4 separate regions of the Homo sapiens genome follow, and all the other regions are linked to region 4. Evidence: fine-mapped expression QTL. A gene starts in region 4. Each other region holds a variant in brackets. All regions are shown on one strand. Distances are between the middles of the regions.

Region 1 (7,370 bases), 75 kb after region 4:
TGGGATGGTGGAAGCCAGCCATGGCTAGTAGGGTACTGACCTTGGCACAGATGCTGGCAGCACTAACCACCGGGTAGAGGGCATCTGCTTTGGCCTTGACCGTCACCTCAATCCCGGGAAAACTTTGCTGCAGCCGCGCCTGGTATGTCTCTGGCATCCCTACGGTGTCCACGAATACCTGCCACAGCAACAGACACATATTAATTGAACAAACAACTGTACCAATGCTCTAGCCTCACAGCCCTGGCACGTTCTTCCTGCTACCCAGAATCCTCTTCTCCAGCACGTCCCCAGGATGGATCAATCAGGGATTTCAACTCGAACATCTCCTCCTAGACCAGGCAAAGTTGTTCAGGCCTGTGATCCCAGCACTTTGGGAGGCTGAGGCGGGAGGATCGCTTGATCCTGGGAGTTTGAGGCCAGGCTTGGCAACACAGTGAGACCCCATCTTTATAAAAACATAAAATAAATACAATAAAATAAAGAAAAAACTCACCTCCTGAAGAGGCTTTCTCTATCACGCTGCTTTTACTCTAACTTATTTAGCACCTACTGCATGCCACATACTGTTCTAGGAACTGAGGTGGCAGAAAACACTAGAAAAAAATTGGTAGAGTGCGTTAGCACAAGCCTGTAATCCCAACACTTTAGGAAGCCGAAGTGGGAGGATCGCTTGAGGGCAGGTGGTTGAGACCAACCTGGGCAACATATGGAGACCCTGTTTCTACAAAAAATAAAAAGTTAGCTAGGTGTAGTGGTGAATAAAGGCTTGAAGGAGGTGAGGAAGTGAACTGTGCAGAGATCTGGGGAAGAGGGCTCTAGGTGTGAGAACAGCCAGTACAAAGGCCCTGAGCTGGGACCAGGTTCATGATGCTGGGCCCATGCATGGGGGCCTTTGGCTGCAGCACCGAAGAGAGGGTCCAAGAGCTGCTGGGGGAAAGTGGTATCTCCACAGCACTACTGTTTTCAGAAACAACCTTTATTTTTTGTTTACCAGCTGACCATCTTTCATGTTTTATTTTTTTATTTTTTATTTTTAGTAGAGATGGGGTTTCACCATGTTGGTCAGGCTGGTCTCGAACTCCTGACCTGATGATCCGCCCGCCTCGGCCTCCCAAAGTGCTGGGATTACAGGCGTGAGCTACTGCGCCCAACCTCCAGCTGACCATCTTTCTGCCCAGGCTAGGCCCTGAACGCCTACGGGTAGGGCCCTTGTCTGTCTACACCAGTTACTGTATCGCCAGCTCTGCATTTGGGCCTGGTCCTCAGGTCCCTCCTCAGCAGGGTCTACCTTGCTATAATTCCTTTCTTTCTTCTTCTTTTTGTGGAGATGGAGTCTCGCTATGTTGCCCAGGCTGGTCTGGAACTCCTAGCCTCAACCAATTTGCTCACCTCAGCTTCCCAAAGTGCTGGGATTACAGGCGTGAGCCACCATACCCAGCATACAATTCCTACGTCAAGGTTATTTTGCCTTGTTATTCTCTCAGAACGGTCCATTCTTTCATTGAGAGCATTCGAGGCAATGCTGATTTATGTTTTTCTCTGGTAATTTAATGTAATTCTGCCCCACTCGACTGTGAATTTTCCTGATTTAATTTCCACTGTGATCGGAAAACTAAATGTCGAGATGTGCATTTCAAAAAGACTACCTTCTGTTGCTGCTTGGGGAACAGATTGGAGGGGATAGGAGGGTGAGGGACGAGAGACGACACTCAGCAGGTGTCCAGGGAGTGGGGGGTGTCCTGGGCTAGGACAGAGGTGACAGGTAGACAATGTAGGATTTGTTCTGGAGACTGAGCCTTTAGGATGAGGGAGAGATTAGATGGAGACGGGACTAGGGGCTACACTGTGGTCGTCAGTGTGGCACACATTTAGGGCAGAAACAGGAGCACGAAATCAACAGTAGCAATGAATATGCCCGAGGCACTCCAGACGTATCTGATGCTGAATCTGCACACTGCACATTTTTGCCCACATTTATTTTTTATTTTATTTTTATTTTTATTTTTCGCTCTGTCCCCCAGGCTGGAGTGCAATGGCGCGATCTCACCTCACTGCAACCTCCGCCTCCCGGGTTCGAGCAATTCTTCTGCCTCGGCCTCACCAATAGGTGGGATTACAGGCACCCGCCACCATGCTGGGCTAATTTTTTGTATTTTCAGTAGAGATGAGGTTTCACCATGTTGGCCAGGATGGTCTTCAACTCCTGACCTCAGGT[G/C]ATCTGCCTGCCTCAGCCTCCTGAAACGCTGGGATTACAGCCGTGAGCCACTGCGCCTGGTCTCCCATTTTTAGTTTATTTTTTATTTTTTATTTTTTTGAGACAGGGTCTTGCTCTGTTGCCCGGGTTGGAGTGCAATGGCACAATCTTGGCTCACTGCAACTTCTGCCTCCTGGGTTCAAGCGATTCTCCTGTCTCAGCCTCCTGAGTAGCTAGGATTACAGGCGCCTGCCACCACGTCCAGCTAATTTTTGTATTTTTAGTAGAGACGGGGTTTCACCATGTTGGTCAGGCTGGTCTCGAACTCTTGACCTCCGGTGATCTACCCGCCGCGGCTTCCCAAAGTGCTGCGATTATAGGCGTGAGCCACTGCGCCCTGCCTCCATTTTTGAGTTGGGGGGCTTCCTTTGTCACCCAGGATGGAGTGCTGTGGCATGATCATGGCTCACTGCAGTCTCGAACTCCTGTTTTGTCCCCATTTTATCCTGAGATGACCAAATGGGGACAACTTACAGTTAACTCACCTGGGTGACGTTCACGCCCTGGTCCAATGCATACTGTATAAGCCCAGTGGCTGTATCATGTGACAGGGAGTTCAGGTTGTATTTGACCCTGTGGTGGGGAACAGAGCCCAGTTAATCTCATTCTAGGAACAAAGCTTGGTCAGCCCATGCTGGCTGCCCCTCCCGGGGACCCCTCACCGCCCAAGCATGCTGGTAGAGATGAGGTTTGGAGACAGCACATCCAGCGCCCAGCCGACAAAGTCCGTGTCCTCCATTTTCGCAAACAGCCTTTCCCGCTCGCTCTCCAATAGGGTCTTTGAGTCTGGGAGGAGGTTTGGAAGAGAAGGGGAACAGCTGGTTCTCCCAGTTCCTGCCCTCCCCTTTCAGTTCTCACCTGCCCCTGCACATACCCAGGAATCCCTTCCCCAGACGCACACCTCGGGCTCACCTGCCACTTTCAGCGCCTCCAGATCTGCCAGGCGAGGCAGGGGACAATAACAGATGGCGTAGACCATGGGGCCTGGGGAGAAGGGGTGTCAGTTTTCTGGCAGCCGGGGTCCAATCACTGAGCCCGTGAAAGTTGCCATTCATCCCTGTTCTATCATCACTGCTTCTTTAGGTGCCATCACCACGACCACATCCCCTCCCTTGGTGCAGTGCAATCCCGACTCCCGTTTCCCGCATCCTCCGTACCACGCCCCTCCCCTCCCTGGCCCTAGGGGCGCACCCAGCACGGGGCCCCTGCCCGCCTCATCGACGCCCAGGACGCAAGGCTCCTTGCGGCACACCGCGGGCACAGGCGAACTCAGGCGACAGCGGCCTGTATTGTCTCTCTCCAGCTCGCTGAGATCCATGCCGCCTCAGCCGCCACCACCAGCTGCAAGAACTAATACTGCAGGAGCGGGTCTCGGCGCGCGTTTTCCGCGGGCCTCGAAGCGGCGCCTGCTTCCGGCCAATCCGCGGGCAGAACACGCCCCTGGCGCTCCCGCCGCCGTGGACGCTTACGCAGCCGACGCCGACGTCGCTGCCGTGCGCCCTCCTGGGAATTGTAGTCCCGAAGGGCTATGGCCGAACACTCAGCTTGGGGAATTCGGTGGACGGGGTCACTTTGCAAGCTCTGCTTCACGGTCTCTGGGGCCCCGCCTGCGTGGCCCGGTGGGAAGAGGGGGAAATAAGAGGGAAACTGAGACGTAGCTTCGAAGACCCAGCCTAACGGGGAACTAGAGAGTCAAATATCACCCCACTCCCAGGACACGGGTCACCGCATCACTGGGTCCCCAACTGCCACTTGGATTCAGGCCCTGTACTTGCGGTCCCTGCTTCTGTACACATTCTAAGTCCCCTGGACCAGGTAGCCCCGCTTCCACTAAACCCAGGCTTTTGGATTTGGAGTCCCCAAACTCCCTCTCTTGGTTGCTCCCTTCGGCCCACCTCCACTCCGTGCAAGATCTGTGCTTCCTAACCTCTGTCTCATTCAGGCCAAGCCTTCCCCACCCCCGTTGGAGATCACAGACCTCGGTGGACTCCTGCTCAGGGTCTCTGCTCCCTATAGAAGCTCATTCCTCCCAACTTAGAATGAATGTCCCCACCCCCACCCCTCGACCCACTTTTTTTTTTTCTTTTTTTTTTTTTTGAGACAGAGTCTCGCTCTTGTCGCCCAGGCTGGAGTGCAATGGCGCCATCTCCGCTCACTGCAAGCTCCGCGTCCCGGGTTCACGCCATTCTCCTGCCTCAGTCTCCCGAATAGCTGGGACTACAGGCGCCCGCCACCACACCCGGCTAATTTTTTGTACTTTTTAGTAGAGATGGGGTTTCACCGTGTTAGCCAGGTTGGTCTCGATTTCCTGACCTTGTGATCCGCCCGCCTCGGCCTCCCAAAGTGTTGGGATTGCAGGCGTGAGCCACCGCACCCGGCCTTCTTTTTTTTTTAGACAGGGTCTCTCTCTGTTGTCCAGGCTGGAGTGCAGTGGCGCGATCTTGGCTCACTGCAACCTCCACCTCCTGGGCTGACGCGATCCTCCCACCTCAGTCTCCCAAGCAGCTGGACTACAGGTGCACACCACACCACCATGCCCGACTATTTTTGGTATTTTTTGTAGAGACGGGGTCTCATTATGTTGCCCAGGCTGGCTTCAAACTCCTGGGCTCAAGCGATCCGGTCGCCTCAGCCTCCCAAAGTGTTGGGATTACAAGCCTGAGCCAGCCACAGTGCCTGGCATCCACCACTTCTATTCCCTGGGCTCACTGGGGCTCATGTCCTCTGCCTGTGGGTTCCCGCCCCTTACCAGGCTCATGCCCCTTCCTCAGGGTCCTAGTTCATTGTCTCTTTATCTCCTTTTACTCCTCTTCGCCTCCCCCTCCACTTTTTTTTTTTTTTTTTTTTTTTTTTTTTTTTTGAGACAGGATGTTACTCTGTTGCCCAGGCTGGATAGCAGTGTAGCGATCTCGGCTTATTGTAACCTTTGCCTCCCAGGCTCAAGCGATCCTTCCTCCCCATCGTACCGAGTAGCTGGGACCACAGGCATGTGCCGCCACGCTCATCTAACTTAAATGTTTTTGTTTGTTTGTTTGTTTGGTTGGTTTTTTTTGAGACAGAGTCTCGCTCTGTCGCCCAGGCTGGAGTGCAGTGGCGCGATCTCGGCTCACTGCAGGCTCCGCCTCCCGGGTTCATGCCATTCTCCTGCCTCAGCCTCCCGAGTAGCTGGGACTACAGGCGCCCGCCACCGCGCCCAGCTAATTTTTTATATTTTTAGTAGAGACGGGGTTTCACCGTTTTAGCCAGGATGGTCTCGATCTCCTGACCTTGTGATCCGCCTGCCTTGGCCTCCCAAAGTGCTGGGATTGCGGGCGTGAGCCACCGCGCCCGGCCTAATTTTAAAAATTTTTATGGAGAGGTGATCTCAACGATATTGCCCAGACTAATCTTGAACTCCAGGACTCAAGAGATCCGCCTGCCTCGGCCTCCCAAAATGCTGGAATTACAGGCGTGAGCCCCGGCGCCCGGCGCCCCCTCCACTTTTCTCCTTTTCTCCCTAGATATCAGCGGGGCTCACGGCTCCTGACTCAGCTTCCCCCTAACCAAATCAGCCTCAAGTCACTCAAGACTTGGAGCCCCAGTTCTCCCTTCCTCAAACTCGCTTCATACCCGCCCCGCACCGCACATCCTCCCTCCGCGCCCACCCTGGGCCCCGCAACTTGCCCCGGCCCTGCTCTCTCACCCGGGCTCAGAGCCTCCAGTCGCAGTCGAAGGGCTTGCAGGATGGACAATCCCGTTGCCGGCAGGGCCGTAACTGGATCAGCTTCTCCGGGTCCATGAAAACCGGGCCCGGCGCTGTGCCCACTACCTCGCGGCTGCGCTCCTGCTTGCCCAGGTCGCAGAGACACCGCCACTTTCCCCACGGGCCAAGGATTGAGTCCTCGACTTCTAGAGAAGGAGGGCAGAGGTGAAGACCTACGTGGAGGGGGCCTACTCCCAATCCCCTCCCCCAGAGAGGGAGAAAGATAAAGATACTAACGAATAAGAGAAGCACATATTCGCTAGACTCTGCTTCTATGCCAGACACCCTGCCACAGATTATCTCATTTAAGCTTTTTTTTTTTTTTTTTTTTTTTTTTTGAGACAGGGTCTCGCTCTGTCGCCCAGGCTGGAGTGCAGTGGCGCAGTCACAGCTCACTGCAGCCTCAACCTCCTGGGCTCAAGCAATCCTCCTACCTCGGCCTACCAAGTAGCTGGGACTACAGGCACATGCCACTGTGCCTGGCTAATTTTTTGTATTTTTTGCAGAGACGGTGTTTCACCATGTTGCCCAGGCTGGTCTGGAACTCCTGGGCTCAAGTGATACTCCCATCTCAGCCTCCCAAAGTGCTGGGATTACAGGTGTGAGCCAGCCACCATGCCTGGCCTCATTTAATATTTCCACGAGTCTCAGGTGGGGAAACCAAGACCCAGAGACAGCAAGCCAACCTTCCAAGCTCATATACGGGGTAAGTGGGCCAGAGGAACTACAACCTGACACTTCCAGGCTGTGCCAGCCTGCCCAGTTGTGAGTGTCCTACAACATCCTTGGTGCCCGCCATTTGAAGCTGACTTCTGTCTTCAGGGGTGTGACCATGGCCCTACCTAGAAGGCACAATGCCACCTGACAGCAGGGTTGTCAAGTGATAAATGGCATAATTGACATAATGAAGGTAAGTAAATCTCCCGGTGCTGTGCTAGCATATACAAACCAATTTATTATGATCAGTTTGTTTATTTATTTAATTTATTTATTTTGAGACAAGATCTTGCTCTGTTACCCAGGTTGGAATGCAAGGGCATAATCATGGCTCACTGCAGCTTCAAACTCCTTGGCACAAATGGTCCTCCTGTATCAGCCTCTTGAGTAGCTGGGACTACAGGCGCATGCCACCATGGCAGGCTAATTTATTTTTTATTTTTATTTATTTATTTATTTTTGTAGAGTAGGGGGTCTCTCCATGTTGCCCAGGCTGGTCTTGAATTCCTGGGCTCAAGCAGTCCTCCCGCCTCGGCCTCCCAAAGTGCTGGGCCATCAAGTCAGGCTAATTTTAAAATATTTTTTGTAGAGATGGAGTCTTGCTGTGTGGGCCAGGCTGGTCTGGTCTCCGAGACCAAGGGATCCTCCCACCTC
Region 2 (7,495 bases), 1.0 Mb after region 4:
AACAAAAGACAAGGAAGTTAGCAGGCTAAGTCTTTGAAGAGAAACTCAGAGAGGCCAGGCGCGGTGGCTCACGCCTGTAATCGCAGCACTTTGGGAGGCTGAGGCGGGTAGATCACGAGGTCAGGAGATCGAGACCATCCTGGCTAACATGGTGAAACCCCGTCTCTACTAAAAAATACGAAAAATTAGCCAGTCGTGGTGGTGGGCGCCTGTAGTCCCAGCTACTCGGGAGGCTGAGGCAGGAGAATGGCATGAACCCAGGAGGCAGAGCTTGCAGTGAGCCGAGATCACGCCACTGCACTCCAGCCTGGGTGACAGAGTGAGACTCCGTCTCAAAAAAAAAAAAAAAAAGAAACTCAGAGAAATTTACTGTATGTTACAATTCCTCCCTTTTAATTTTCTTATGATTTTTTCTCTTTAAACTTTTTTAACGTGTTTTGGCTTTGCTGTTTGATTTGATCTTTTAAAAGGAAAAGCTTACTTGAATAAGGTGGAGGAGAACTAAGGGAGGTTTCAGTAAATGCTGTTCGTACAATCCTTTGTATTAGCCTACGGATGCATGGTATGACACAACGCCTAACAAGAATAAGTACACCTGTTACGACTGTAAAAGAAATAAGTATTGAGGCTATGATTCTTTATTGACTGAACTACTTTCCTAGCCATCTTGAAATAGGGTCATTGACTCCAGAAATTTTAGCTAATTCATTGGATAAAGCGGTAAGTCTTTGCAAGGCCTTTGTTATGCTCTCACTGGGGGCAGTGTTGTTTGGAATGAAGGTACAACACTGGGTTTTAATCATAACACAAACTCCACCTTTTTTGGCTAATAACATGTCTGGAGCCATTCTGGTTTTTATTTTTTGAGATGGAGTCTCACTTCGTGGCCCAGGCTGGAGTGCAGTGGCACCATATTGTCTCACTGCAAGCTCTGCCTCCCGGGTTCACGCCATTCTCCTGCCTCAGCCTCCCCAGTAGCTGGGACTACAGGTGCCCGCCACTACGCCCGGATACTTTTTTTGTATTTTTTAGTAGAGACGGGGGTTTCACCATGTTAGCCAGGATGGTCTCGATCTCCTGACCTTGTGATCCGCCCACCTTGGCCTCCCAAAGTGCTGGGATTACAGGCATGAGCCACCGCGCCCAGTCAAGTGATTCTGTTTTCTTAAGCTATTTGGCTAGTAGGCCTTAACTGGTCAGCTGTTTTTTGATAAGATCCTTGGTGTAATTCATAAACTGCTGCTAATTATAATAGATGTAATTTATCGAAGCTACATTTTTATTAATAGTTATTCGGGGAAATATGGGTTTAAATCTTGCAGTTATTTGGTCTCAGGTTTTGAACTTGTTAGGCACTCCCCATGGGACTCTAATGGCCTTTATGTAAACTTGAGAGTCAAAAGACTTATAAGGGGCTTCTCTTATTTTTTGGTGTTGTGGCTTTTCTTTTTTTTTGGTTGATGAAATGCCAGTGTGAAAGGGATCGCCAATTGGACAAGAGCGCAAGTGCCGCTCCAGTTACTTGGCAGAGTATCCAGTAAAGGTCCACTACAATACCACCATACATCTGCTTGAGGATGACTAAGGGCAGACTGATGGGTAAGTTTTTGGAAGGGCTTAAGCTTATTGCATCTTGTTAAGCTTCTAAGGAACGCCAGATTCTCCCCTCGTCGTGAGAGACATGAGGTGAAATTGACGTCAGGAGAAGGAAGCTGAATGGCCTTTGGGGGCTGGCCTGCAGGTTGTTGGACTTCGGGATATAGCAGAGAGAGAGCTTGGCATGATTTGTTGCCCCAGGCTGTGGAATTTTGGAAAAGAGCTACCATACAGCCTATGCCTGGTCGGCTGAAGGGCTATCCTAGTGGAAAGGAAACAGTCTGGGCCTCTAGTCTGCCATGCATACAAGCGTAACAATTGCTTTTGTTCAATGTGCGGACGGAATATTGAATCCATTCCAACCAGGTATTTACATCTTGATATCCTGTTTTAATTGCTAGGGTTTGTCTTAAATCTTTTACTTCTACAATATTTACTTTAGTAGTATCATTAGGTAGAAAACAGGTGGCAGTCTGATTAGAAGAAAGCTTAGAAGGAGAAGAGAAGGAAGGGGGTGAAGAGAATGAAGGATTAATAAAACGCATTTCGAAAGATCTTATGAGGTCTGTGCTGGCCAAGTTGGCTCCTGTTCCATAGAAGTGACTTAAAGTAGGTTTAGGGTCAGTAGAGGTGGAAATTTGTATGGGATTACATTGATTATACTGGCAATTGGGGAGGTGCTTTTTTTAGTGAAATGAATGTATGGTTTTAAGGATATACAGCCACCTGCTGATGAGGTCTAGCCTTGACATTTGGTTGTCCATAGGACATCATTCTAGCTATGACAGACTTGTTTTCTTATATTTGTTAAGGAACAAGAGTCTTGGTAGGGGGGGCCTTTCACCTTAAAGGGGCAGAGATACTTTTCTGAGGCTGAGACTTGTCTTTGACTTTGGAGATCTTTACAGGGTATGACTAGACATAGCATTAAACGTGATAACTTGGGGTGAGTTTGATTGAGTTACATTAATGACAAGGTGGTCAGCATTGGAAGGGGAAAAGAAGAAAGAGTAATAGAATAGATGTAAGAGGTTAAATTTTTCTTAGCTTTAGTTTGAGGGGGTTTTCCCCTGGAATAATGGCCTACGACTTTGGGGGTGGCGGTGCTTTCTTGACTCGGGTGTGATGGGTCTATCCTTTCTCTGCTGTCCAGACTGCAGTTTCAATGGTGGGAAGTACTAGGCCAGCTCCTCAGGCCGGTGTTGACGCACTGGGAACTCCAGGAGCCGCACCTGTACTGGAAAATTGTGAGTTTTGAGGGAAGAGAAAGTGGAAGATAAACCAAGTATGTAGGAATGTTGGCAGTGGATTGCTTTGAGAGGTAGTTTGGATTAATAGGAAGACAGAAGACATTTGAGTTATGGCAACTAAGTTTCTAGACTTGTTTGGCTAAGGATGTACATTTTCATACACATATAAACTTTAACTGTGCTATACATAGCTTGAGGTCTTTAATGGGTCCTCTAATTTAGGTGGGATAGGACTTCTTTCATAAGAGGTTTAAATAACATTTGAATTCCCTTCAGTGCCTACAGGAGAAACGGCAGCTGGTTCGGATTATCTGATTTGCTAGGTTATTTTCTTAACTCTTGAAAGATAGGATTTTTGGTGCCTGGGGACGTGGAAAATAGCTTTTTTTTTTTTTCTGGTAACTGAAGGTTATTTAACACTTGGGTTATTAACTCTTCATGAACAAGGCTTTGACCTTTATTATTGTCTGAAATTTTCTAAATGTATGAGCCACGATAAAGGTGTATTTAGAATCAATATAGATTAGTATAGATGGTTCCTTTGCAGTTACTTTAAAGCTTGACTAAGTGCAAACAGCTTACAAATTTGGGTAAACTATTAAACAATTTTTAAATTTTATTTCTCTAGGAACTTCTCTATTTATTATTGAACATCTGTTGAATCCTTTTTCCTTTAATCATTTTTGAAGGGGGTTTCTCTTAAGTTTGGCCGGACATTTGTATGGTAATCAGTTAAATCTAAACATGTGTGCTTCCTTTTTAGATTTGGATCTTTCGTTAAGAAACTTGTTAGGTTAAGCAAATTACTAGTAACATTAAACTATCATTTTTAACAGAATAGCCTCATATTTATACACATGTAATTCTTTTTTGGTGGTACATTTTAACATAGGTGACTTTAAAGAATCAGAGTTCTTTTCTGGTGGATATTTTCACTTTTAACACTGGCCTGACTATAATAAATGCTAGTGGATATATCCGCTGAAAGATTATCTACTTCTTGCTCAGGAAACTTAGCTGCGGGGATGCCAGGCTGCTTGGAGCCATCGCTGAAGCCCCGTATTACTTAGCCTCAGCAAAGTAAGGCAGATATCCTATAATGTAGTTTGCATGGGGCATAGGCTGGGGCCTGGCTCGCATGTCATGCAGAGCTGCCGTCAATACAGTGCCAGGACCTTGGACCAGCCAGTGGGCAGGAGCATGGGCTTTGCCGCTGCAGGGGTGCACTATGGGCCAGACAACGCTGACAACATGTTGCGGCAGATCCTTCATGTTGCTAGCCTGGCAAAAGCCATCTGGTGA[A/T]TTAGGAGCTTGGAGTTCTTTAGGGGAGAGGGACTTAGGCTGGGGAAGAACAGACTTACTGGGCGATGCCTGAGGGGAAGGGTTGGGTATTAGGTGGGGAATGGTCTAGGGGATCTTGCGAGTTGTTCTTTTTGCTAGGATCCCCCAAGCCCCTTCCTTCACTGTCTTTTTCATTAAAGATGGTTCTATCTTAATAGGGCACATGTACAACTCATTTTCCTCCAAATATTAGTTTTTGACTTGCTCCTTTCAATCCTTGGAGGAGGGGAAAGGACAACTCCTTGCAACTAACATAGGGCATAATTTGTTTCTTCTCAGGAGGCAGGTCTTCTACTAGCAACATTTTCTATTAGAAGTTCACAAATCCATCCCTCATTCGACTTAAATTCTGGCCAGAAAACTAAGGGTTCAAGGATTCGTTCTTGAGTCTAAATGGAACAGCAATATTTTATCACTAATTGCTTTTTCTTATGTTTAGTCTTTTCATTATCTTTCTAATGTTTTAACATGAGACCTAGGGGACTATTAGGGGGGATATCTTTGTTGCTAACTTTGTCTTTTTTGCTTGTAATATTTCCTATACTGGGTCCTGGCTAGGCTCAATCCCTCGTGATAGGAATCTCTTGCCTAGGGGGGCTTGCTGTGGCTCAACCCCTCATATTAAGGATCTCTTGCCTATTTTGGGGGTTCCTTGTGGCTCAGCCTCTCAAATTAAGGATCTCTTGCCTATTTGGGGGGTTCCTTGTGGCTCAACCCCTCATATTAGGAGGTCTTTTGCCTATCCCTCACTGGAAGTGTGGCTAAGGCTCAATTCCACTATCCTTTAGCTCCACCTGCTGGAGGTTCCTTGCACCCTTCTTTCGCTTCATCCACTCTGGCCGCTTCCCTCGCAGGTTTGTTTCAGGTTCCTCTTAGCATTGATGGCAGGTCCGTATAAACCTGTGACAGGACCCCCGCAGGGCTGCCCTAAGCCGTGTGAGGTGACCACAGAACCGCAGATTGGACTCACTCGCTCCGCACAGCAGTAGTGCTTGTTACCATTCATGCACTTTCAACCCCCAGAATGCCCTGACACACCCCTCCGACTACCAAAGAATTACTTTGTTGCCCCTGCAACGTTTCCCACCTTGGTCTGTGCACAGAGTTTACCTGGTCGCTGCGGTATTGCAAGCCTCTCTTCCCCGCGTTGCTGAGAGTCCGGGTTTATTCGTCAAAATGGGTGGGTCTCGATCTCCTGTCCCTGAGGCCACCGCAATGGGGCAGTGGGACGCGTCTCCCCAGGGTAGGGTGACTGAAGAACTCTTCCAAAAGGAGCATGGGGATCTCGGACGATCCCCTAGAATTGTTGGATATAAAATGCTCCCGGAATAAAAGCTTGGTGCCGTGAAGTAAAACCAGCACTCAGGCAAAATTTTAATTCTCTCAGCAAGGCAATTTACTACTGCAGAAGGGTGCCACTCACGTCAATCAAGATCACAAGAGCACAGAGAACAAAGGAGACCAGGAGGTTTTTATCCTTAATGCGGTCCCTATCTCTGTGTTACTCCCCCATGGGCTGGGGTCGGACCGCACAGTCTGAGCTGACCCGATTGGCTGCTTGTACATATTTTTCTAAATATAGAAGGGGAGGGGGATGTGAGGTACAGAGGTGGAGCATGTGAGATGTGCAGTTTTGGGGGAACAATGGGTACAGGTAACCAAGGGAACAGATGTGAGTTATTGATTAGAGCTGATGGGAACGGGGTAGGCTGTTTTAAAGTAACTAGGGGCAAGGAGGAACAGGAAAGTTGAGTTTGAGAACAAAAGACGAGGAAGTTAGCAGGCTAAATCTTTAAAGAAAAACTTAAAGAAATTCACTGTATCTTACAAATCTGACCCCAGTGGCCCCATGCATGTCAAACCCCAAACCCTGCCCAGAAGACAGCCCCAGGCTCCAGAGGTACAACACCAGAAAGGACAGAACCCCCACACATACGTGTGCATGTGGGTCTTCTGCTTTCCAGGGCTCTTCAGCTTCTCGGAATCCGCACTCCTTCTGGAGCTGCTCTGAGCAATTGGAGGCCACCTGTAGGGGAGGGCGGGCTGCCCGGAAGCCCCCAGGAAAGGCTCCTTTCCCTTCCTTTGCAGGCTCCACACTGGCCTCAGCGTTGAGTCACCGGCCTCGGGCTCTGCTGCCCCCTGCAGGTTATTCAGCTACTTCTCACCCCATTGATCAGTTCCATGACACAAACACCCTCAATCCCATTGTGTGAATAAGACACCAGCAGAGTCCCTGCTCTCCTCCTATGTTTATGTATAAAGTGGGGAAGGAAAATTCTAAGATAACTTAAGTGCATTTAAAAGATTTCCAGATCGTGGTGGAGGTGGCAGCTGAGGGACGCACGTTCAGTGACACTGCAGTACCTCCGGGCCTGGCTGGTTGGAGAGAGGGTGGAGAGCTGGAGATGAATGTGGATATATGGAGGGAGCAGCCCTGGGAACCGGGCTCTGCAGCAGCGCGGCTCTAGGGCCTGGAGCCCGGGGGAGCAGAGATGATGGGGGCTCCTGGGACAGGACGCTTGGGGAGAAGAGAGTCAGGCGGTTTCCATGGGACAGGGGTGCTGTGGCAGCTGGTGTGGGCCTGTGGCTATCATAACTAAGCCCGATTGGGACGTGAAAACTTGGATTCCGTGGGAATTTATGAAGAGGAAGGCTCTGATGACAAAGAAGTCATCGATGAGGAGAGGGATTAGGGTCACTGGCAAGCTCGCCCCCTTATGGAAAGAAAAGTGAACGTTCAGCTACTGCGGCAAAATGGGGTCAAAGGATGAGACTCTCACTGTCAGGGAATAAATTGCTGCAGAACTCTTAGAGATTGCAAAGACCTTCAAACAACAGCCTGGGAGGCCGGGTGCCATGGCTCACGCCTGTAATCCCAACATTTTGGGAGGCCAAAGTGGGAGGATCGCTTGAAGCCCGAGATTGGAGACCACCCTGAGCCGTGAAGTGAGACCCTCCCATCTCCATAAAAAATTTTTAATTACCAAGGAGAAGTGTGTGTACCTACAGTCTCAGCTACTCAGGAGGCTGAGACAGGAGAGTCACTTGAACCCCAAAGTTTGAGGCTGCTGTGAGCTATAATTGGGTACTGCGCTTCAGCAAGACACTGTCTCAAAACAAACAAACAAAAAATTAAAATCCCACCAAACTCCCTGGGGAAACCCTGTACCCCTTTGATGGTCAAAGTGTAAAATACAGCAGGTGGTGACATTTCCTTATGGACTGGATCATTCTAGCCACGTAAGAGGCTTGGCCTACTGAAGATTTACCAAGCGGGATCACCTCCTTGCAGTCAGTGGAAAAAGCCC
Region 3 (7,370 bases), 26 kb after region 4:
ATATAGGTAGAATGGATGGACAAATCAATGACTGGAGAAATAAATAGATGGATAAACATACAGGCCGACTAATCAATATGGAGACTGCGGCTCAGGCAGGCCACCCCGCAGCCCTGACCAGTGAGCACGGCCCCATCTTCCCTGCAGCCCCGCAGGCAGCCACACCTTCCACATATTCCATGACCATGCAGAGGTGGCGCCGAGTCTCAAAGGAGCAGAACATGCCGACCACAAACGGGTTCTCGGCGAAGGTGAGGATATCGCGCTCCACAAAGGCCTGCTGGATCTGGTTGCGGAGGATCAAGTTCTGCTTGTTGATCTTTTTCATGGCAAAGCGCTGCCGCGTGTCGCGGTGCCGCACCAGGTAGACAGCGCTGCAGGGGGAGAGAGCGAGGACCGGCCGTCACCTCCGAGACACCCGGCCTCCGCCACCCTCCCCCCGCCAGAGCCCCGGGTGGCTCACCCGTAGGCACCGTTGCTTATGAGCTTGATGGTATCGAAGTCATTCTCCCCCGGCGGTTTCTTGGCCTTGCTGCTGCGGCCCTTCAGGAAAAAGATGGAGACCACACCACCATCATCATCATGAGAGCAGGATGCTTTTAATTTCATTTTACACATGGGGAAACTGAGGCACAGAATGAAAGAGTCCTTCATCCAAGTGCCATAATGAAAGAGAAAGTTAGGACTTGAACCCAAGACTGACTCTGAAGACATATTCTCATCTTCTTCCACTAGAAAAGATAGCAGGAAACCAACAAAATAGTCATCCTAATATATAAATATATAAAGAGTTCCCAAAAATCAATAACAAAAGCCTAACAATTGAAGAGAAAAAAGTGGGTGAGGTAAGTAAATTACAGTTAGAGCTTTTTTTTTTTTTTTTTTTTTTTTTTTTTTTGAGATAGGTTCTCACTCTGATATTCAGACTGGAGTGTAGTGGTGCTCACTGCAGCCTCCACCTCTAGGGCTCAAGTGATTCTCCTGCCTCAGCCTCCCAGGTAGCTGGGACCACAGGCACATGCCACCATGCCAGGCTAATTTTAGTATTTTGGTTTTGCCATCTTGCCCAGGCTGCTCTTGAACTCCTAGGCTGAAGCAATCTGCCTGCCTTGGCCTCCCAAAGAGTAGGGACTACAGGCATGAGCCACTGTACCCAGCCAGAGTTACAGCTCTTAAACATACTAAAAGATTCGGGCCTGGAGCGGTGGCTCACGCCTGTAATCACAGCACTTTGGAAGGCCAAGGTGGGCGGATCATGCGGTCAGGAGATCGAGACCATCCTGGCTAACACTGTGAAACCCCATCTCTACTGAAAATACGAAACAATTAGCCAGGCATGGTGGCGGGCACATGTAGTCCCAGCTACTTGGGAGGCTGAGGCAGGAGAATGGCGTGAACCCGGGAGGCAGAGCTTGCAGTGAGCAGAGATCATGCCACTGCACTTCAGCCTGGGTGACAGAGCGAGACTCTGTCTCAAAAAAAAAAAAAAGATTCTTGGCCAGGTGCAGTGGCTTACGCTTGTAACCCCAGCACTTTGGGAGGCCAAGGCGGGCGGATCACCTGGGAGGCTGAGGCTGGTGGATCACCTGAGGTCAGGAGCTCGAGACAAGCCTGGCCAACATGGAGAAACCCCATCTATACTAAAAATACAAAATCAGCTGGGCATGATGGCACATGCCTGTAATCCCAGCTACTCAGGAGGCTGAGGCAGGAGAATCGCTTGAACCCAGGAGGCAGAGGTTGTGGTGAGCCGAGATCGTGGCATTGCACTCCAGCCTGGGCAACAAGAGCAAAACTCCATCTCAAAAAAAAAAAATTCTCAATCTCACTTACAATAACAGAAAGGCAAATTATAACTACCACAAAATACCATTTTTCACCTAGCAGATTGGGAGAAAAAACTCCAAAACCTGATATCCTCTATGGGCAAATATGTAGGTGAACATATATACTTTGCTGTTGGGAGTGTAAATTACTGTTTGATACAGATCAGAATTACAAATACATGTTCCCTTTGACTCAGCAATTTTACTTTTGAATTTATGCTACAGATATACTTGCACATGTGAAAAATGGTATATCTACTATCTTGCTCATTGTGAGATTGGAAATAATAATCCATACGTTAAATTAGCCAAACAAACACATGTGGGGTAGTTAGATAAAGAAACATTGTGCCACTGTTAGAAATAATGAGGAAACTCTCTGTCTATGGATTTAGAAAGTCCTCTATTTTATTAAGTGTAAAAATGCAATAGGCAATATGTATTGTACGTTTATGTGCAAAAAAATGTGGCAAAGGCCAGGTGTGGTGGCTCACACCTGCAATCCCAGCACTTTGGGAGGCCAAGGCAAGTGGATCACCTGAAGGTCAGGAGTTCGAGACCAGCCTGGCCAACATGGTGAAACCCTGTCTCTATTAAAAATACAAAAACTTAGCCAGGCGTGGTGGTGGTTGCCTATAATCCCAGCTGCTTGGAAGGCTGAAGCAGGAGAACCACTTGAACCCAGGAAGCAGAGGTTGCAGTGAGCCGAGATCACACTGTTGCACTCCAGCCTGGGCAACAAGAGTGGAACTTTGTCTAAAAAAAAAAAAAAAAGTGGCAAAATAAAACTATGTAATCATATTTCAGGGCTATAGGGCAATGGGGAAAAAAGGTAGGAGTAAGATTTTTTTCACTGTATATCTTTCTTGAAAATTATTTTGATTTTTCTTAGGGACAAAGAGATTTATTACATAGATATTACATAAAAAGATCTATGATATATAAAAATATTGAACTTATATGCTCCAAAGAATGTAGCCTAAAAATATCTGACATAAAAATTGACAGAATTGGGCAGAGTGTAAGAGGTATCTTATGCTGTATTTTTCCTTTATTGTTTGCAATACTTCGCACACTATTGTATGGAACTCTTACCTATAATCAAATAAAAACCAAAATGGCAAAAAAAAAAAAAAAATTGACAGAATTACAAGGAGAATTTGCTTAAAATAAGGTTTCACATTTCTCTCAGAAACTATTAGATTAATCAGGCAAGATAAATGAATAGGGAGATGGAAGATTTGAATCACTCAATTAACAAGTTTGATTAAAAGGAATAACAGAATCCTACAAACAATGAGAGATAAATACCTTTTTTTAGAGTTTTAGATTTTGAGTGATGTCATTCCATTACCTATTCAAAAAATTAAACAAATGGCATATATTGTGAGATTCCTTTTAAATATATACATAAAGGAAAGGTATGTGTATATATCTGTGTGACTGTATAGACACAATTTGAAATAAAGATTACAAACTTAAGCGTCTTCAGGGGCCAGTAGACCAGGGTGGAGGCCATGGATGACGAAGGGGCAGGTACCCAATATCACAGGACCACCCCCACTCAGCTGGTTCCACCACAGTATTATTAGAACTTCTTCTTCTTCTATTTTTTTTTAAGTAGAGACAGGGTCTTGCTATGTTGTCCAGACTGGTTTCAAACTCCTGGGCTCAAGCAATCCTGCCACCTTGGCTTCCCAAAGTGCTGGGACTACAGGCATGAGCCACTACACCCAGCCCTAGAACTTCTGATTTTTCAAGAGAAGGCCCAAACCCAGATTTTGAAGCAAAAATCTTTCAATTTTTATATTTTGCTTCTTTTATTTATCTATTTTTATTTTTTTCAAGATGGAGTCTCACTCTCTCACCCAGGCTGGAGTGCAGTGGTTTGATATCGGCTCACTGCAATCTTTGTCTCCCTGGTTCCAGCAGTTCTCCTGCCTCAGCCTCCCAAGTAGCTGGGATTACGGGTGGGCACCACCACACCTGGCTAATTTTATGTATTTTTTTAGTAGAGACAGGGTTTCACCATGTTGGCCAGGCTGGTCTCGACTTCCTGACCTCAAGTGATCCACCCGCCGCAGTCTCTCAAAGTGCTGGGATTACAGCCGTGAGCCATCAGGCCCAGCCCAAATTTTTGAAAAATACTAGGCAGTTCAGAGAAAACACATGTGTGGCCATTGGGGTAGGACTCTCCACTAGACATCTGGAACATCTGCCAAAGTGTGGCTGGCCTGGGAATAGAATTGGCAATTTTCCCCATGCTGAGCTGCCATTAACACATACAGCCAGTTAGCTTGCTCGAAAGCCCATGCAGGATTCCTCTATAAGTTAAACATAGAGCTACCATATGACCAAGAAATTCCACCTCTAGACGTATATCCTAAATAACTCAAAGCAGTTGTCCAGCCAAATATTTGTACACCCACATTCATAAGAGCACTATTTACAACAGATGAAAGATGGACAACCCAATGTTCACCAGTGGATGAATGCATCTACCATTCAATGGAATATTACTCGGCTATAAAAATGAATGAAGCAGTGACACAAGCTACAACATGGATAAACCTCAGAAACGTTATGTTAAGTGAAATAAGCCAGTCATAAGAGGCCACAGAGCATACGATCCCATTTATAGGAAATATCCAGAAAAAGGCCAGGCATGTGGCTCACGCCTGTAATCGCAGCACTTTGGGA[G/A]GCCAAGGCAGGCAGATCACCTGAGGTCAGGAGTTCGAGACCAGCCTGACCAACATGGTGAAACCCTGTCTTTACTAAAAATACAAAATTAGCCAGGTGTGGTGGCGCATGCCTATAATCCCAGCTACTCAGGAGGCTGAGGGAGGAGAATTGCTTGAACCTGGGAGGCGGAGGTTGCAGTGAGCCGAGATCACGCCATTGCACTCCAGCCTGGGCAACAAGAGTGAAATTCTGTCTCAAAAAAAAAAAAAAAAAGAAATATCCAGAAAAAGCAATTCCACAGAGAGAGAAAATAGATTAGTGGTTGCCAGGGACTGCAGGGAGGGAGGAATGAGGAGGGAGTGTGTAATGGGTGTGAGGTTTCCCTTTGGGGGTGATAAAAAAGTTCTGCAACTACATAGATCTAATGGCTGTACAGCATGGTGAATTACTAAATGCTGCAGAATTGTTTATTTATTACTATTAATCATTATTATTATTATTATTATTATTATTATTATTATTATTTTGAGACAGAGTCTCGCTCTGTTGCCCAGGCTGGAGTGCAGTGGTGGGATCTTGGCTCACACCAACCTCCACCTCCCGGGTTCAAGCAATTCTCCTGCCTCAGCCTTCCAAGTAGCTGGGATTACAGGCATGTGCCACCACGCCCAACTAATTTTTTTGTATTTTTAGTGGAAATGGGGTTTCACCATGTTGGCCAGGCTGGTTTCGAATTCCTGACCTCAAGTGATCCACCCATCTTGGCCTCCCAAAGTACTAGGATTACATGCATAAGCCATTGCACCTGGCCTATTCTTTATTATTTTTAATTTCATTTTTCAAGACAGGGTCTCACCCTGTTGCCCAGGCTGGAGTGCAGTGGTGTGATCATGGCTTACTGAAGCCTTGACTTCCTGGGCTCATAGGATCCTCCCACCTCAGCCTCCCGAGTAGCTGGGACTACAGGGGTGCACCACCACGCCCAGCTGATTTTTTATGCTGCCCAGGCTGGTCTCAAATGCCTTAGCACAAACAATCCTCCTGCCTTGGCCTCCCAAAGTGCTGGGATTACAGGCCTAAGCCACTGCACCCGGCCCCGAATTGTTCATTTTAAAATGGTTAAAAAGGCCGGGCGCGGTGGCTCATGCCTGTAATCCCAGCACTTTGGGAGGCCGAGATGGGCAGATCAACTGAGATTGGGAGTTTGCAACCAGCCTGACCAACATGGAGAAATTTTAGTCTCTACTAAAAATACAAAATTAGCCGGGTGTGGTGTTACATGCCTGTAATCCCAGCTACTCGGGAGGCTGAGGCAGGAGAATTGCTTGAACCCAGGAGATGGAGGTTGTGGTGAGCTGAGATAGTGCCATTGCACTCCAGCCTGGGCAACAAGAGCAAAACTCCATCTCAAAAAATAAATAAATAAATAAATAAAAATAAAATAAAATGGTTAAAAAAGTAAATTAAATTTTATGTTTCATGGATTTTAACATGACAAAGAGGTCACAGGGGAAGAGCAATTATTTTATTTTATTTTATTTTATTTTTTGAGACAGTTTCGCTCTTGTTGCCCAGGCTGGAGTGCAGTGGTGTAATCTCAGTTCACAGCAATCTCTGCCTCCTGGATTCAAGTGATTCTTCTGCCTCAGCCTCACAAGTAGCTGGGATTAGAGGCATGTGCCACCAGGCTTGGCTAATTTTTGCATTTTTTTTTTTTTTAAGTAGAAACGGGGTTTCTCCATGTTGGTTAGGCTGGTCTCGAACTCCCGACCTCAGGTGATCTGCCCACCTTGGCCTCCCAAAGTGCTGGGATTACAGGCATGAGCCAGCATGCCAGGCTCTGGAAGAGCTATTATTAATCCCATTTTATGGATGGGAAAACTGAGGCTCAGAGTGTAGGACCAAGAGATCCACAAAGCCTGAGGGCAAAGAAGCCGGAGATGAGCCCCACCCTGCCCTCCCAGGAACCAGGGTACTGACCGCTTAGCCACCCAGCCTTACCTCAGAGAGATCGTCTTGCTCAGGGGTGTTGGAACCACCACTGTCCTGTTCCTCCAGATGCACCACATCTAGGGAGGGACTGAGAGTGAGCACGAGCTGGGTTCTGGGCCTGCTCACCCCCAGTCCCCCTGCGCCCACCAGCCGGCACCTGGAAAGGGGTCACGGGTGAGGCCCAGCTGGCGGATGATGTAGCGGGGGATGTCCGTCTTCACAAGGTGGCCCTCCTTGGCGTGTCCTTCGGCCGCCTCCAGCAGGTGGTAGAACTCCTCGGGGTTGAATTCCTGAGGCAGGGCAGGAGTGGGCTCACCACAGGCTCCCAGGGTCTACCAACCCACCCCTACCCATGCCCAGCCCCCTCACCAGGCACTCCAGCAGCCTCGCAGGGCGTGAGATGATAATAAGCAACTTCTTCACCAGCTGAGTAACGAAGGCCACCTCCAAGCTCTCAGAGCGTTCATAGGCCTGTGGCAGGGGACACAGAGGGACAGGGCTCATAGGCACTCTGCCTCAGCCCGGCCCCTCTCTCAGCCCCTCAGAGTACATACTGCTGCTACTGTCCCATCTTACAGGTGAGGAGACTGAAGCCCAAGCCACACAGTAAAAATAATGAGGCTGGGCACGGTGGCTCATGCCTGTAATCCCAGCACTTTGGGAGGCTGAGGTGGGTGGATCACTTGAGGTCAAAAGTTTGAAACCAGCCTGGCCAACATGGTGAAACCCCATCTCCACTAAAAACGCAAAATGAGCCAGGCGTGGTGGCAGGTGCCTGTAATCCCAGCTACTTGGGAGGCTGAAGCAGGAGAATCCCTTGAACCTGGGAGGCAGAAGTTGCAGTGAGCCAAGATCACACCACTGCACTCC
Region 4 (7,495 bases):
TTCGTGGGCGCGCAAGAGGCAGGCAGCGCACACGTGCGCGCACCCGGGTTGCGGCAAGAGCTACACCAAGAGCTCCCACCTGAAGGCGCATCTGCGCACGCACACAGGTGAGGGGGCGGGGCCCCGGACATGAGAAAGGGCGCGGCGCCCGCTGTAGTTACAGGGGAAGAAGGGTTGCAGAGGGCGGGACTTGGACTTGGCTGGCCTCTGAGAGTGAGTGCCTCCTTAAATTTTGTGCCCTAGGGGCCTCACTTTGTTCATCCTAGTCCCAGCCCAGGCTGAGTAAAGGGGTGTGGCCAGATGCAGGGGACCCGGGGACATGACTGGGCAGACAGTGGCGCTTATGGCTTCCTTGTCCCCTAGGGGAGAAGCCATACGCCTGCACGTGGGAAGGCTGCGGCTGGAGATTCGCGCGCTCGGACGAGCTGACCCGCCACTACCGGAAACACACGGGGCAGCGCCCCTTCCGCTGCCAGCTCTGCCCACGTGCTTTTTCGCGCTCTGACCACCTGGCCTTGCACATGAAGCGCCACCTTTGAGCCCTGCCCTGGCACTTGGACTCTCCTAGTGACTGGGGATGGGACAAGAAGCCTGTTTGGTGGTCTCTTCACACGGACGCGCGTGACACAATGCTGGGTGGTTTTCCCACGAATGGACCCTCTCCTGGACTCGCGTTCCCAAAGATCCACCCAAATATCAAACACGGACCCATAGACAGCCCTGGGGGAGCCTCTTACGGAAAATCCGACAAGCCTTCAGCCACAGGGAGCCACACAGAGATGTCCAAACTGTCGTGCAAACCCAGTGAGACAGACCGCCAAATAAACGGACTCAGTGGACACTCAGACCAGCTCCCAGATGGCCCTGGACAGCAGGAGAGGGTGTGGGATGAGGCTTCCCAGAGACCCTGGGTCTAGAAAGCGGCTCCTGAAGGTCCCTTATTGTGGCTGATATTAACTGTCAATGGTTATGGGTCCTATAAAAATGCCCCTCCCAGATAAAGCTTCAGCGTTGGCCTGAATTTTTGGGTTTTGGAGGCTGGAAGATGGCAGGAGGCTGTAAACCTAGAGGTCATATTAGAGGGCCTTACACACCCTCATCTCCTAAACTACAGTGACACCCCTCAACTCCAACAAGCCCCCTTGGGCACTGGAGGCCTTGCTGTCCTCTCTTTTCCCACCCAGTTCAGGCTACACTGTCCTTGTCTTCTGCCTTGAACCCTGCGGACATTGACAGCAAACATCTCCCTGGATTTAAGAGTTCACAGCCTATGACTGCCCAGGGGGTTCATCTTGCCCACTGTCCAGATAGAGCCAATTTATCGAGACAGAGGGATTGCAATAGAGAGAGTTTAATCCACATACATCCAGCTAAATGGGAGATGGGAGTTTTATTACTTGAATCAGCCTCCCTGAAAATTCAGAGGCTAGGGTTATTCAAGAACAGTTTGGTGGGCAGGAGGGCTAGGGAATGGGTGCCTTGCTGCAATCCTGGAGCTGTGGAAAACAGTTGCTGAGTCAGCTTCTGGGTGGGGACCATAGAGTCGCTAGTCTGGGTGGAGTCATCCAGTTGTCAGATATGCAAAAAGCCTAAAAAGACATCTAAAAAGGCCAGCGTTAGGTTTTGCAATAGTCATGTTATTTGCAGAAATAACTGGGGAAGTTGCAAACCTTGTGACCTCCAGAATAATGGCTGGCCATCTTTGTTTTTGTTTTTGAGATGGAGTCTTGCTCTTGCCCAGGCTGGAGTGCAGTTGTTCCATCTTGGCTCACTGCAACCTCTGCCTCCTGGGTTCAAGTGATTCTCCTGTGTCAGCCTACCAGGTAGCTAGGATTACAGGCACATGCCACCATGCCGGGCTAATTTTTGTATTTTTAGAAGAGATGGGGTTTCGAAATGCTGGCCAGGCTGGTTTCGAAATCCTGACCTCAGGTAATCTGCCAGCCTCGGCCTCTCAAAGTGCTGGGATTACAGGCGTGAGGCACCGCACCCGGCCGGAAAAATGGCTGGTCATAATTTAACTACTACACCTACAGTTTAGCAGAATTCAGGCTCCTCTCATCCTCCTAACCTAGTGCCCTTTCATTATTTCTACAAAGGCAGTTTAGTTTGGGGAAGGGCTATTATCATTTAAGCTATAAACTAAATTCCTCCCAAAATTAGCTTGGGGCCAGGCATGGTGGCTCCCTCTTTAATCCCAGCAATTTGGCAGGCTGAGGCGGGCAGATCACTTGAGCCCAGGAGTTCGACACCAGCCTGAGCCCCAAGGTGAAACCCCATCTCTACCAAAAATGGTGAAACCCAGTCTCTACCAAAAATACAAAAATTAGCTGGGCATGTGGCGCATGCCTGTAATCCCAGCTACTCAGGAAGCTGAGGCAGGAGGATTGCTTGAACCTAGGAGGCGGATGTTGCAGTGAGCTGAGATCACACCACTGGACTCCAGCCTGGGCGACAGAGTGAGACAACGTGTCAAAAAAAAAAAAAAAGTTAGCTTGACCCCACTCCAGGAATGACCAAGCAAGGGCAGTTTGGAGATTAAAGGCAAGATGGAGTTGGTTAGGTCAGAGCTCTTTCACTGACATAATTTTCTGTCATAATTTTTGCAAAGGCAGTTTCAAGCCAGTACTCAGATTCCCATAGCCCTTTGCCCTGCCATGATCCTTTGAGGCTGAGGTGGGAGAATCACTTGAACCCCGGAGTTCCAGAGCAGCCTGGGCAACATAGTGAGACCCTCATCTCTGCAATGAACAATTATCTGGGTGTGGTGGCACAGGCCTGTAGTACCAGCTACCTGGGAAGATCTCTTGAGCCCAGTAGGTTGAGGCTGCAGTGAACTGTGATGGAGTCACTGCATTCTAGCCTGGGTGAGAAACCATTATCCTGTCTCAAAACGACAAAAAACAAACATACAGTCACCTCTTTGCTAGCTCAGGGGATCCTGGAGAAAACGTGCAGAATGAAAAAGGAGAGTCTGGGTGGCGTGGATTACATGCCTGTAATCCCAGCACTTTGGGAGGCAAGACAGGTGGATCCCTTGAGCTCAGGAGTTCAGCCTGAGCCACATGGTGAAACCGTGTTTCAAAAAAAAAACTACAAAAATTAGCTGGGCATAGTGGCATGTGCCCGTGATCCCAGCTACTCGGGAGGCTGAGGTGAGAGGATCACTTGAGCTGGGGAGGCAGAGGTTGCAGTGAGCCAAGATTGCGCCACTGCACTCCGGCCTGGGCAACAGAGCGAGATATTGTCCGGGAAAAAAAAAAAAAAAAAAGGAAGGAAAAAAAAAAAGAAAGAAAAAGGGGAAGATACACTGGAACACAAATGCTTCTTAAGGGGCGCAGTGGCTCACTTCTGCAATCTTGGCACTTTCGGGGGCCGAGGCTGGTGGATCACGAGGTCAGGAGTTCGAGACCAGCCTAGTCAACATGGAAAAACCCCGTCTCTACTAAAACTACAAAAATTAGCCGGGCGTGGTGTCGGGCGCCTGTAATCCCAGCTACTCGGGAGGCTGAGGCAGGATAATCGCTTTAATCAGGAAGGCGGAGGTTGCAGTGAACCGAGATCGTGCCATTGCACTCCAGCCTGGGCGACAAGAGTGAAACTCCGTCTCAAAAAAAAAAAAAAAAAAAAAAAAAAAAAAAGAGGAAGAACAAAGGTCCCAAGAGTTGGACCCAGGTTGTAGGGCTGGAATAAAAAATAAAATACAAACTTGTGCCTGATCCAGAAACCCGGGCGGGAGTTGGGTCAGACAGAAGAGCGTGGGCTGGGATTAGCTACCACGAAAAGGAACGGTGGCCAGGCTCCAGGAGACGCTGGAGCGCCGGGCCCGTCGTGGGCGTGGTCTGGGCAGACTCAGCGTTGCCTTTTGCCTCTCCAAAACGCAGCATCGCGTCTCGGGGGAGGAGTCTGTACCCTCGTGATGTCCCCGCCCCGGTTCCCAGGCAAGTTTAGGGAAGTGAAAGGCGCCAGGTGCCAGTCCTGGCCTCTGATGTAACCCAGCGCCCCGCAGTCCCGACACAGATTCCTGGATCTCAGCCCCATAGCAGCTATGATCCCGCTGCTGCTGGCAGCGCTGCTGTGCGTCCCCGCCGGGGCCCTGACCTGCTACGGGGACTCCGGGCAGCCTGTAGACTGGTGAGTGCGCAGCGGGGGGCCTACCATCGCCCCGGGGTCCGGCTGCGGTCACTCAACCGGGATGGCTACCTCCTCGGGGAACCCTGGGGTGCCTTCTCTTCCCTCTCTCCTATTTCTGTGCATTCTCCGACCTCCAGGTTCGTGGTCTACAAGCTGCCAGCTCTTAGAGGGTCCGGGGAGGCGGCGCAGAGAGGGCTGCAGTACAAGTATCTGGACGAGAGCTCCGGAGGCTGGCGGGACGGCAGGGCACTCATCAACAGCCCGGAGGGGGCCGTGGGCCGAAGCCTGCAGCCGCTGTACCGGAGCAACACCAGCCAGGTGAAGGGGGCCCCGGGCCAACTAGGGGCGAAACTCTAGGGCTGCCCTGCCTGGGAGGAATTTCACGTTGCCTCCGTTTATCCGCCCGCAGCTCGCCTTCCTGCTCTACAATGACCAACCGCCTCAACCCAGCAAGGCTCAGGACTCTTCCATGCGTGGGCACACGAAGGGTGAGGCCTGGATTGGGGGCTGGGGAGAGACTCGGGTCCCATTTTTCCAAGGTAACCCCTGACGTGCATGGGGTGGTCGGGGAGATCTGCACTGTCAGACCCTGGGCATCTATTCCCCCCAACTTTTTTTTTTCTTTGTTTTTGAGACGGTGGGAGTTCGCTCTGTCACCCAAGCTGGAGTGCAGTGGCACAATCTTGGCTCACTGCAATCTCTGCCTCTGGGGTTGAAGCAATTCTCCTGTCTCAGCCTCCCAAGTAGCTGGTATTAAAGGCGCACCATCACACCAGGCTAATTTTCATATTTTTAGTACAGACGAGGTTTCACCATGTTGGCCAGGCTGGTCTCGAACTCCTGGTTTCTACCTCAAGTGATCTACCCGCCTTGGCCTCCCAAAGTGCTGGGATTACAGGAATGAGCCACCCTGCCCAGCCGAGTTCCTATGCATTTTTCCAAGCTAACCCCTGACCTCCATAGTGGGGTGGGAGATCTCCCCTGTCAGACCTTGGGCATCTATTTCCCCTATTTTATTTTCTTTTAGACAAGGTCTCACCCAGTCACCTAGGCTGGAGTGCAGTATCACAGCTCACTGCAGCCTTGACCTCCCAGGGCTCAGGTGATCCTCCTACCTCAGCCTCCCAAGTACTGGGCCTGCCGGTACCCCCCACCACGCCTGGCTTTTTTTTTTTTTTTTTTTTTTTGCGGCACTCTCTCTCCATCACCCAGGCTGGAGTTCGGTGGTGCAATCTCAGCTCACTGCAATCTCCATCTCCCCAGTTCAAGCGATTCTTCTGCCTCAGCCTCTGGAGTAGCTGGGATTACAGGTGTGCGCCACCATGCCCAGCTAAATGTTGTATGTTTTAGTAGAGATGGGGTTTTACCAGGTTGGACAGGCTGATATTGAACTCCTGACCTCAGGTGATCCACCTGCCTTGGCCTCCCAAAGTGCTGGGATTACAGGCGTGAGCCACCACACCTGGCCTACTTTTTGTATTTTTGTAGAGTGGGCTTTTGCCATGTTGCCTAGGCTGGTCTCTAAGTCCTGGTTCAAGCAATCCACCCACCTTGGCCTCTTAATGTGCTGCGATTACCGGCATGAGCCGCCACACCTGGCCTGTTTCCCTACCTTACATTACTCTTGGCGTTATTCTGGACTATAAGAATTTATGCCTGCAAAAACTGAGCTCAGCTGTGGTTCTAACACTGCTGGCACCCTCTCTAAGCCCCGCTGCAAACTGAGGGTGTTCCTGATTGCAGATGAGCTTGCTGGGAGGCCTGGAGCAATACCCTCTAATTGCCTTTTTTTTTTTTTTTTTTTTGAGAAGGAGTTTTGCTCTTGCTACCCAGGCTGGAGTGCAATGGTGCAATCTCGGCTCACTGCAACCTCCGCCTCCTGGGTTCAAGTGATTCTCCTGCATCAGCCTCCCGAGTAGCTGGGATTACAGGCATGCACCACCATGCCCGGCTAATGTTGTATTTTTAGTAGTGATGAGGTTTCTCCATGTTGGCCAGGCTGGTCTTGAACTCCCGACCTCAGGTGATCCGCCCTCCTCGGCTTCCCAAAGTGCTGGGATTACACTGCGTGGGGCCTGCCTTCTTTTTTTAAATTTTTATTTATTTATTTATTTATTTATTTATTTACTTACTTACTTACTTATGTTTGAGATGAAATTTTGCTCTGTGGCCCAGGCTGGAGTGCAGTGGTGGATCTCAGCTCACTGCAACCTCCACCTCCTGGGTTCAAGCGATTCTCCTGCCTCAGCCTCCTGAGTAGCTGGGATTACAGGCGTCCACCACCACGCTCAGCTAATTTTTGTATTTTTAGTAGAGATGGGGTTTCGCCATGTTGGCCAGGCTGATTTCTAACTCCTGACCTCAGGTGATCTGTGTGTCTCGGTCTCCCAAAGTGCTGGGATTACAGGCGTGAGCCACTGCGCCCGACCTCCCCTAATGCCTTCTTTTGGTCCAGGTGTCCTGCTCCTTGACCACGATGGGGGCTTCTGGCTGGTCCACAGTGTACCTAACTTCCCTCCACCGGCCTCCTCTGCTGCATACAGCTGGCCTCATAGCGCCTGTACCTACGGGCAGACCCTGCTCTGTGTGTCTTTTCCCTTCGCTCAGTTCTCGAAGATGGGTAAGTCGAGTCAGGGACACAGGATGAGTCCTGGGTTTACTGACCAGAACCTGGAACGATCTTGCATTTCCTCCTCCCCTTGTCCTCCAGGCAAGCAGCTGACCTACACCTACCCCTGGGTCTATAACTACCAGCTGGAAGGGATCTTTGCCCAGGAATTCCCCGACTTGGAGAATGTGGTCAAGGGCCACCACGTTAGCCAAGAACCCTGGAACAGCAGCATCACACTCACATCCCAGGCCGGGGCTGTTTTCCAGAGCTTTGCCAAGTTCAGCAAATTTGGAGATGGTGAGTCTCAAGGTTGAGGGTTGGAGAGCTCCTTCTCTGCAGACAGGGTGACTGGTGTGGCCATGGCTGAGTTCAAGTCAGCGGTAGAGACCAGGTCTGTTTGGGAGCTATAATCACATGATCAGTGAACAGACCTGGGTTCAAACCCTGGGTTTTGCTGTGTGATGTATAACTTCACCTGAGCCTTGGTCTACTCATCTGAAAAATGGGGATACTGACATCTACTTAAAAAATTGTGAATGAAGTGGTACCTGTAAGTCATTTGGGTGCCAGAGGTGGTGCCTCACTCCTGTAATCCCAGTTACTTAGGAGGCTGAGGCAGGAGGATCATTTGAAGACAGGCATCCAAGACAAGCCTGGGAAACATAGCAAGACCTCATCTCTACAAAATTAAAAATTAGCCAAGCAACTTGGGAGGCTGAGGCAGGAGGATAAATTGAGCCCAGAGTTTCA

What was found. PIP is the estimated chance that this variant, and not a neighbour inherited with it, causes the effect.
Region 1: its variant is fine-mapped to the expression of DNASE2 in whole blood (INTERVAL, PIP above 0.99).
Region 2: its variant is fine-mapped to the expression of DNASE2 in whole blood (TOPMed, PIP above 0.99).
Region 3: its variant is fine-mapped to the expression of DNASE2 in whole blood (TOPMed, PIP above 0.99).

The regions. Positions count from the first base shown.
Region 1 is chr19:12,802,879-12,810,248 of GRCh38, reverse strand. It overlaps RNASEH2A (ribonuclease H2 subunit A), which reads right to left and starts at 3,665. Exons shown (of 8, transcript NM_006397.3): 1 at 3,449-3,665; 2 at 3,170-3,241; 3 at 2,920-3,043; 4 at 2,743-2,830; 5 at 41-178. The coding sequence starts at 3,575. THSD8 (thrombospondin type 1 domain containing 8) reads right to left here. Exons shown (of 2, transcript NM_001386800.1): 2 at 5,860-6,145. The coding sequence ends at 5,946. RefSeq lists enhancers at 3,562-3,611, 3,812-3,941 and a cis regulatory region at 3,386-4,418. The variant G/C (reference allele first, on the strand shown) is at 2,219.
Region 2 is chr19:11,878,884-11,886,378 of GRCh38, reverse strand. No RefSeq gene overlaps it. Among named protein-coding and RNA genes, the nearest start is that of ZNF69, 5.2 kb to the left of the region's middle. RefSeq lists an enhancer at 4,879-5,058. The variant A/T (reference allele first, on the strand shown) is at 4,149.
Region 3 is chr19:12,851,535-12,858,904 of GRCh38, reverse strand. It overlaps MAST1 (microtubule associated serine/threonine kinase 1), which reads right to left. Exons shown (of 26, transcript NM_014975.3): 8 at 6,870-6,971; 9 at 6,658-6,790; 10 at 6,510-6,577; 11 at 464-543; 12 at 166-374. It overlaps MIR6794 (microRNA 6794), which reads right to left and starts at 6,645; the gene lies at 6,578-6,645. RefSeq lists an enhancer at 6,216-6,716. The variant G/A (reference allele first, on the strand shown) is at 4,527.
Region 4 is chr19:12,877,929-12,885,423 of GRCh38, reverse strand. It overlaps DNASE2 (deoxyribonuclease 2, lysosomal), which reads left to right and starts at 3,975. Exons shown (of 6, transcript NM_001375.3): 1 at 3,975-4,134; 2 at 4,272-4,452; 3 at 4,544-4,622; 4 at 6,590-6,754; 5 at 6,845-7,042. The coding sequence starts at 4,049. It overlaps KLF1 (KLF transcription factor 1), which reads left to right. Exons shown (of 3, transcript NM_006563.5): 2 at 1-107; 3 at 364-1,002. The coding sequence ends at 539. RefSeq lists enhancers at 1-40, 1-489, 1,362-1,623, 4,048-4,157, 3,817-4,444 and cis regulatory regions at 1-413, 1,293-1,813, 2,353-2,853, 3,593-4,153.